Linked DNA regions of Homo sapiens: region 2 is linked to region 1. Evidence: fine-mapped expression QTL. A gene starts in region 1. The other region holds a variant in brackets. All regions are shown on one strand. Distances are from middle to middle.

The links. PIP is the estimated chance that this variant, and not a neighbour inherited with it, causes the effect. A credible set is the group of variants that fine-mapping cannot tell apart.
Region 2: its variant is the best candidate, but not a certain one, in a credible set for the expression of LYSMD2 in whole blood (TOPMed, PIP 0.54).

Annotation. Positions count from the first base shown.
Region 1 is chr15:51,735,739-51,740,131 of GRCh38, reverse strand. LYSMD2 (LysM domain containing 2) reads left to right here and starts at 2,477. Exons shown (of 3, transcript NM_153374.3): 1 at 2,477-2,782. The coding sequence starts at 2,510. RefSeq lists silencers at 2,159-2,598, 2,609-2,748, 2,819-3,028.
Region 2 is chr15:51,370,989-51,375,381 of GRCh38, reverse strand. All of the region lies in intron 1 of GLDN (gliomedin), which reads right to left. Among named protein-coding and RNA genes, the nearest start is that of GLDN, 32 kb to the right of the region's middle. The variant G/A (reference allele first, on the strand shown) is at 1,762.

The DNA of each region.
Region 1 (4,393 bases):
CAAAAAATTAGGCGGGCATAGTGGCACATGCTGTAGTCCCAGCTACTCAGGAGGCTGAGGCAGGAAAACTGCTTGAACCTGGGAGGCGGAGCTTGCAGTGAACGGAGATCACACCACTGCACTCCAACCTAGGCAACAGAGCAAGACTCTATCTCAAAACAAACAAACAAACAAAGAAAACCCCAAAGCCAAACCAAAACAAAAAACCCCAGGGTCTCACTGTGTTGCTGAGGCTGGAGTGCAGTGGCATGATCTCTGCTTACTGCAGAGATCACCTACTGGGCTTAAGCAATCCTCCCACCTCACTTTCCCAAGTAGCTGGAACTACAGGAGTAGGCCACATGCTCGATTAAGTTTTGTATTTTTTGTAGAGATGGGTCTCACTATGTTGCCCAGGCTGGTCTTGAACTCCTGGGCTCAAGCTATCCTCCTTCCTTAGACTCCCAAAGTGCTGGAATGGGCCACTGCGCCTGGCTCAGTTCTTTAATCTTCAGATTAAAACTTCCAGCCATGCAGTAAACTTTTTCTTAGTGGAAAACATTATATGCTGTCTCATTCCTAGATTGTAAACTCTTTGAAGGAAGAGACTTCTTTCTTGAAACATTACCAGATCTTGTCTATATACTGAGACTCAAATTCTGCCTCTCTCTTGGGTCCTGAAATGGACACACTGGATACCACCCAAAAGTTTATGCATGGCAGACTTATGCTAAACAATCTAAATTAGCATTCAGGATCTTTTTACTACACCTCAATTCAACCACTTGTAATTATGTATTTATTTTTTTTTTTATTCCACTGAGCTAGGCACTGCTGGAGCTAAAAAGATGAGTAAGACCCAGTTATGCCTCCCAGGAGCACGTATTTGTTGGAGGAGATAAGACAAGCTCATGCATGTACATGCAAGTACAAACACAAAACACAGAGAGTTAAATACTAAACCAGAGGTATTAATACAAACCTCTTGGAGTTCAAAGAAGAAACAGTAACAGTTGGGCAGGTGGGAAAAAGGGACCATTGGGAAGAATTAGGAAAAATCTCATGGAGGATGTATCATTTGAGACAGACCTTAAAGATTTAAACAATGTAATAGAGGGTACTGGAAGAGTGTTACCATTGGAGGGAATAACATGCAAGGTATGAAAGTAGGAACAAGGAGGCCAGTTTCAGAGGCTCTGTTTGGCAGGAATATGTAGAGTATACAGAATGAGTTATAGATGGGGTATGGTCAGACCATGAATAATAAAAATAGAAATAATAGCTTGAATGCCAATGTAGGTTTTTAGTAATGCTGTTGTCCCCAGAGAGCCATTGTAGGAGTTTTGAGTGGGATGGTGTTGTGGAAGCTTGCTCCTCTCCCATCCTTTCTCTCCTGAGCAATATTAGCTTTGCCTCTGTCCAGCACAGCAACATACCAAAACTTCAGCCAACGAATCAAACCCCCAGGCTCCGGACCTTCCTACAAGGTACCTCTTCTTGGAAAGCTGTCCAAAATAACACAGAAACCAGGCACTAGATGCTAGTAAATGTGTACCCACTCTGTGTATAATACAGTGTGTTGAAAGGGTGTTCAAGAGTAGACGGTGTTCAAATGAAGAGTACAGATAAGAGGTCTTTGGTGGTTATAATATTAATAGCAATACGGGGCAGGGAGATGCGATTTCAGGGTGTCAAAGAATAAACTGACGAAGAGAAGATGAATGCAGACAGTAAATTCCAACTACTGAGCCTGGAGAATGAATTGTATGTGGCCAGCCTTTCGAGGCAGCCAGGACTTAAATTGGCACTAGTGTACAAAGTGTGAAACCCGAACAACTAGGGGGGTTATTTTGAGGCCACCCATTAGGCCTTAGAAGCACTATCCCTCCTAGTGCAATGTTGAAAGGACTGGACTCTGAGGCTGTTGAGATGGACCTGGAGAAGCTGTCTGTGTGTGTTTGATGATCTTAAGTTTTACTGTGACGTGGACTTTGAGGTCACTGGGGTGGGGGGAGGGAAGTACCCTTGGCATTGGCAGAGCTGGAAGGTCTGTGCAAGCTGGCTCCTGCTGGGGAATCAATAAAGGAGGCAGAGCAACGCTTTTTTTTTTTTTCGCCGTGGCCAGGGCAGGGTTCTGCCAGGGCTCTATCGCCAATGGAGCAGGGGTCCACCTGGGGCCTAGGACGCCTGCAGATAGCCCTCTCTTAGCCCCAACGGCCGCGGGCTTCAGCGCTCCCCGGCTCCCTCGCTCTGCAGGGTCTTCCCGGTACCGGCAGGCCGCGGCGGGAGCTGCTTTCGCTCTTAACCTTGCAGGTGCGTGTGCCGCGGGCGCCCGGGGCAGGCAGGACGCAGAGGAGGAGGCGCCCGCCATGCCCGGCCTGCGGCTCCCCGCCTCGGCTTCCCGTCCGCCGCCCCCGCGGAACGGCCTGCTGCAGCCCCTGTGAAGAGGAAGAGGCGGCGGCGGCGGCGGAGGAGGAGGAGGCGCCGCCCCCTTGGCAAGCTCCCCGACCCGGCGGCCTCGGCAGGACCCATGGCGGATTCCTCGCCCGCACTGTCCCTGCGGGAAGGCGGCCCCCGCGCGCCGCGGCCCTCGGCCCCCTCGCCGCCGCCGCGCTCGCGCTCCGGCTCCGAGTCCGAGGAGGCCGAGCTGTCGCTGAGCCTGGCCCGCACCAAGACCCGCTCGTACGGCAGCACCGCCAGCGTGCGGGCGCCGCTGGGCGCCGGCGTCATCGAGCGCCATGTGGAGCACCGGGTCCGCGCGGGCGACACGCTGCAGGGCATCGCGCTCAAGTACGGTGTCACGGTGAGCAGGGCGCGCCGCCGCGGCCCGGGCTGGCAGCTACCGCGCAGGAGGCGGTGCGGCTCGGGGTGCGGTGGGGGTGGGGGTGGGACTGCGGGTGGGGGTTTGGGGGATGGGGAGTCGCAGGGACGGCCGTGCGTCCCCGGGCGGCTCGGCTCCCAGGGCTCGCTCAGCGCGCGCTGCTGGCCACCGCAGTGGTCGCCAAAGCTGGTCCTGCAGCGGGAGGGGCGGACCGCCAGGGCTCCCTCCCTAGGTAGCTGCATCGAGTTCCCGGTGCCCCGCCCAGGCTCAGACTAGATCTGTCGCGTGAGGGAGGCCGAAGAGGACTAGGGCTTTGGCATCCCCGTGAACCACCTTCACCCAATTTGCAGGCCCCATCACACTACTCTATATTTACGCAAAGCCCAACTGAGGTGAATTTTGTTGTCTGTGAAAACAAGCTCCGTGATGAGTCAGGAATGGTGCAGTTGTTCCTACTGGGTGGTTCTGGTTCTATCGATTATGCTTCTTTATGTAGAAGTGAAATTACACCCTCTGGGCTCACTGGCAACCGCGAATGTGACACCTGTCGCTAAGCAGCAGCCAAGAACTGTGGTGAGCTGGAGGGCTGCGTTTATTACAAATTTATAAGTGTGTGTGTCTTGGGTGTATAGCATTACACCTCTGGGAAGAACATGGAAACCTGAGGGAACAAATTGTTTCATTAAAATTACTTATAATTAACTGTGAGCTATGTGATGGCCTTTTTACATTTGGGATCTGTATCAGTTTTCAGTGTTCTTTCCTGAAGCACCTTAGACAGCAATGGGAAGAAAGAGGATCTTATCTATATCTTTCCCTTAAAGTGAAACTCTTTCTGGCCCTTTACCGAATGAAGGAGCATCAGTATGAAGGAGAATGTATTTTGCATATTTAAGCCGGTATATGTTTACCTATCAGGTCCTTCTATCTTTGAAATATTTTGAAAGGGACCTTGCTGTGCAGTCATGTATTGACTCTATCATGCCATGGAGAGCCCCATTCTGCCCTCTTGGGAGTTCTATACATGTGAACATAGAGCTACAATTCTCTATGTGCCTTAATGGGGCCTGGTTTGAGTCAGAGGCAGAGGAAAGCGAAGTTGGGAAATACCAGTAGCTACCCTCTGCTGAATGCCTCCTGTGTGGCAGGCATTGCGTTTGTCTTGTTTCATCTTTATCTTATTTAACTTTCACAATAAGCCCAGGAGGTAGGTGTAATTAATCTTTTTACAGATGAGAAGATGGATGAGAGGTAAGGATATTTTCCAAGTATGATCATTCATTGAGACCAGCTTGAATTAACAGTGATAAAGCATTTGCTTTCCTCTAGATATTACTTTTGATATCCATCCTTATTTTTATCTTAGTCTTATCAGGAGCTCTCTCAGCATCCTGGCTACTGAAGGAGGACAGTCTTTTCTATCTGGTTTTCAGGCATCTTGCCTTACTAGGCTAGTGACAGCACCTAAAAATCTATGACATGCAGAAGAGTGTTATTTCCCATGCTGTCTTCCCGTGCAATCTCTCTGTGACCCACAGCCGTCTGTGGTTTCACTTGAGTTGATTATAGATAACTCTTATACATCTGTTTACT
Region 2 (4,393 bases), 360 kb after region 1:
CTTTTAAGATAATCTCTTTATCTTTCCAGAATATTTGTGTAGATTTAGAAAACCTCAAGTGAGGGGAAAATGGAGGGCCAGGGTGGAAGGGAGCTGTACTAAACATGATACAATCATTGTCTTTTTCAAAAATTTCACTGATTACTCTTTCCATTAAACTATTTTTCAAAATGCCATGTTTTGATGTGAGGGGAAAATAATTTTTGTATTGTATCTAGATTTATTCTGTTAGGAGATCCAGAGGAAAACTTATATTGTATTTACTTTTTGTCAAGTATGTCAACAGCTATTTATTGCCTGCTTTAGAAACTTATTGTGAAATATTCATACATATCACACATGTAGAAAATGTGGGCCTGGTGTGGTGGATCATGTCTGTAATCCCAGTGCTTTGGTAGGCCAAGGTGGGAAGATTGATTTCAGCCCAACCAGCCTGGGTAACATAGTAAGACCCTTTCTCCATGAAAAAATTAAAAATTAGCTGGATATAGTGGCATGCATATATAATCCCAGCTACTTAGGAGGCTGAGGTGGGAGGATTGTTTGAACCCTGGAGGCTGAGGCTGCAGTGAACAGTGATCCCACCACTGCACTCCAGCCTGGGTGACAGAGCAACACCCTGTCTCAAAAAAAAAAAAAAAAAAAGGAAAAGAAAGAAAAGAAATGTGTACAGATAATTTAACGATGAATAATATGACAAACACATATATATGAAATGAAATGGAAGTTTACCAATGCCTTGGAAGACTTCTGGATGTCCCCTCACCCCCAATAGCTCTCTGAGTTGGAGTACACTTATCCATTTAATTCAGATAAGAAAATAGAGGCTTAGAGAGATGCCATCATTTACTCAAAATCACACAGCTTGCTGGTAGAAGAAATGGGACTGAACTCCAGGTTTCCTGATTCCAGGTCCACTCTACTTTCTATTATGGCTCTGGTGATTATCTTAACATCACCAGACAGAAAAAAAATTGATTCACTGCCTTTAGTCATTTTCATAAATGAATGTAATCAGCTGCACTAGGAACAAAATTTATTGTCTTAAAAAATGTGTAATTGCCCATTGAGAGGACCAGAAAAGACTTCACAATGGCTTCATTTGTTGCCTGGGGGATCACAGCAGAAGGGGTGGTTGGAAACAACAGAAGCAACAATAGGGAAAATTAGCCTTTCTGTTTGGTACTAATCACTGATCTGGGGCAGGTGCAGCTTCTGTAAAAACTATGAAGCAGTTTTCATTTCCTGACCTTTTGATTTCATTTGTATGCTAAATGTCAATTGAGATATTTACCAGTAAATTATGTTAATCTTTACTCAAGAATAGTCTTTTAACGAAATTGGGCTGTGTATATAAGATTGTATTGAGATGAAATATATGATATGAAAAGGTGTGGCCATAAAGTTAGAAACTTTTTTCTGGTCATAATGATTAAAAATTGGAATCAAAATAAGAAAACTCCCAATTGAAAGTCACAAAATCTAGATGGTCAAATTAAGGAGTCATATTTTGCATTAAGGGCCTCTTAAGTCTTGAGGGAGGTCTTGAGAAGGTTGAAGCTGGAAGAGTCCTTAGAGGTCATTGTCCTGGGGGTACTAGGCATGACCCATCCATGTTGTGGCCCTGCCCCCGCACCTTGTAGGGCATCTCCCAGTGCTCTCCCCCTCCCTGCCCATCACTGTCACTCTGCTCCAGTCGCACTGGCCTCGTCGCTGGTCTTGGCCTTGCCTAGCGTGCTGTGCCACACATCTTTACATGGT[G/A]AGCTTCACTGATGCCTCAAGTCAGGCTTTCCTGTCTCTCAACTGAAGGGAGCCCAGACAGCCACTCCCCATCACCTCATCTGGCCTTTTGTCTTTGTAGCACTTATCATTATTCAGTACAGTTGACCTTGAATGATACAGGTTTGCACTGTGTGGGTCCACTTGTACACGAACTTTTATCAGTAAATATAGTCAGTTATCCATATACACAGGTTCTGCATCCGCAACCAAACATGGATTGAAAATACAGTATTTGAGGGATGCGAAACTCTCAGAAATGGGTGGCTGACTTTTCATATACTTGGGTTCCACAAGACCAGCGTCAGGAACTTGAGTGTGTGCGGATTTTGGTATTCACAGGTGTCCTGGACCCAATCCCCCACAGATACTGAGGAATGACTGTATTATCTTGCTTACATATTTATTACCTACTCCTGCTCCCCAGAGAAAGGAAGCATTTTGAGAGCAGAAAAACTTCTTTGTTTTGTCTGCATCTCCTGTACTATGATTTGAATATGTCCTCCCAAATGCATGTGTTGGAAACATAATCCCCAACATAACAGTGTTGGGAGGTGGGGCCTAAAGGAGGACATTTAGGTCTGCAGAACTCCACCCTCATGAATGAATTAATGCTGATTATAAGGGGGCTTGAGTTCACTCTCTTGCCCTTTTGTCTTCTGCTGTGGAATGATGCAGGAAGAAGGCCCTCACTAGATTCTGGTACCTCAATCTTGGACTTCCCAGCCTCCAGAATTATGAGAAATAAATTTCTGCTCATTATAAATTACCCTATCTGTGGTTTTCCATTATAGCAGCACAAAAGAGACTAAGGTACCCTGTGTCTAGAATAGTGCCCGGTCCCAGGCCTGGAACTTCTCTGCTGAGAAGTGGTTCAAGTGGGAAAGCACATCAACCGTCTCTAAGGAAGAGTTTCTCTGAGAGAAGATGACAATAAATTGCTAATCAGTTCATGATATGAGAATCTGGTGGTGCTGGGGAGAGGGTGGGTGAAGCACAGGAAAAAGTCCAACCCAGCCACGCTAGCATGGAGGACAGACTTAGTGGGAACGATGGGCTGTCAACCTGAGTGCAAAATAATAAGCAGTAGCCCCGAGAGCTCAGGATGAATGCCCTGTTGGCTGTAAGCATCACTGAGGAGTGAGAATTATCTCCCAGAAGAAACAATGGGGCCCATCAGGTTCATCTCCCAGGTGGGAAGATCAATGCAGCAACGGACAGGGACATATTACATTGCATGGCGACTTGTTTTCAGCATTGAACGTTTGGTAGCTGCTATGGTTTGAGTGTCCCTTCCAAAACTCATGTTGAAACTTGATCCTGAATGTGGCAGTATTGAGAAAGGGGGCCTTTTAAGAGGTTATTGGATCATGAGGGCTCTGCCCTCAAGAATGGATTAATCCATTCATGGATTAATGGGTTATCATGGTAGTGGAACTGGTGGCTTCATGTGAAGAGGAAGAGAGTCCTGAGTGAGCACACTTCAATCCCTTGCTATGTGATGCTCTGTCTCACTTGGGACTCTTCAGAGAATCCTCACCAACAAGAAGGCTGTCACGAGATGCAGCCCATCAACCCTAGACTTCTCAGTCTCTATCACTGTAAAAGATAAATTCCTGGCCAGGCGCGGCGGCTCATGCCTATAGTCCCAACACTTTGGGAGGCCAGGGTGGGTGGATCACCTGAGGTCAGGAGTTCAAGACCAGCCTGGCCAATATGGGGAAACCTTGTCTCTACTAAAAATAGAAAAAAATTAGCTGGGTATTGTGCCATGCTTCTGTAATCCCAGCTACTTGGGAGGCTGAGGCAGGAGACTCGCTTGAACCCATGAGGCAGAGGTTGCAGTGAGCTGAGATCGAGCCACTGCACTCCAGCCTGGGTGACAGAGTGAGACTCCATCTTGAAAAAAAAATTCTTTTCTTATAAATTATCCAGTTTCAGGTATTCTGTTATAATAAACAGAAAGTGGACTAATACAATAGCGTTAGGGGAAAAGATAGCCCAAATGGGCCCTACTGGCAGCCTGACCAGCTTTTCCAGTTTTTTTCTCTGAAAAGGGAACTATTCTCATTGGATTAGCAGAACTCTTGGGGATCTTGGCCAAGGAAGAGGCCCCAGGAGAAAAAGAACAGACTTCTTGCTGACCTGGCATCAGATGGCTTGAGCTTGTTTTAATTCAAACTAAACAGAGATGGGACATAACTTGGCAGTATCTGTTAAAAAGAAAATGCTACAAATTAGGAATCCCACTTGGAAGAGTATACAAGGATATCTGGACAAAAATGCTCAATGCAACACTGTGTGGCAGAACATGCAAAGGTTTGTCAATAAGGGTCTTGTTGAACAAATTTTAAAGGATGACATAGATCTATATGTACTATTGGAAAGACAGCCTTGGCATGGTGTTAAGTGACGAAAGCAAAATGCAGCCCAAGCCACATAATGCAACACAACTTTTTGGTTGATAAATAATCCCTAGATGTTTTTGTATAAGTACACAAAAAAGCTGGGAGGTTCATGAAACCAAACAACTGATATTCTTCCCCCTAGAGACTGAGACTAGGGAATAAGAAGGGGATAGGTTTTTTTTTTTAATTTTTTATTTTTTGAGATG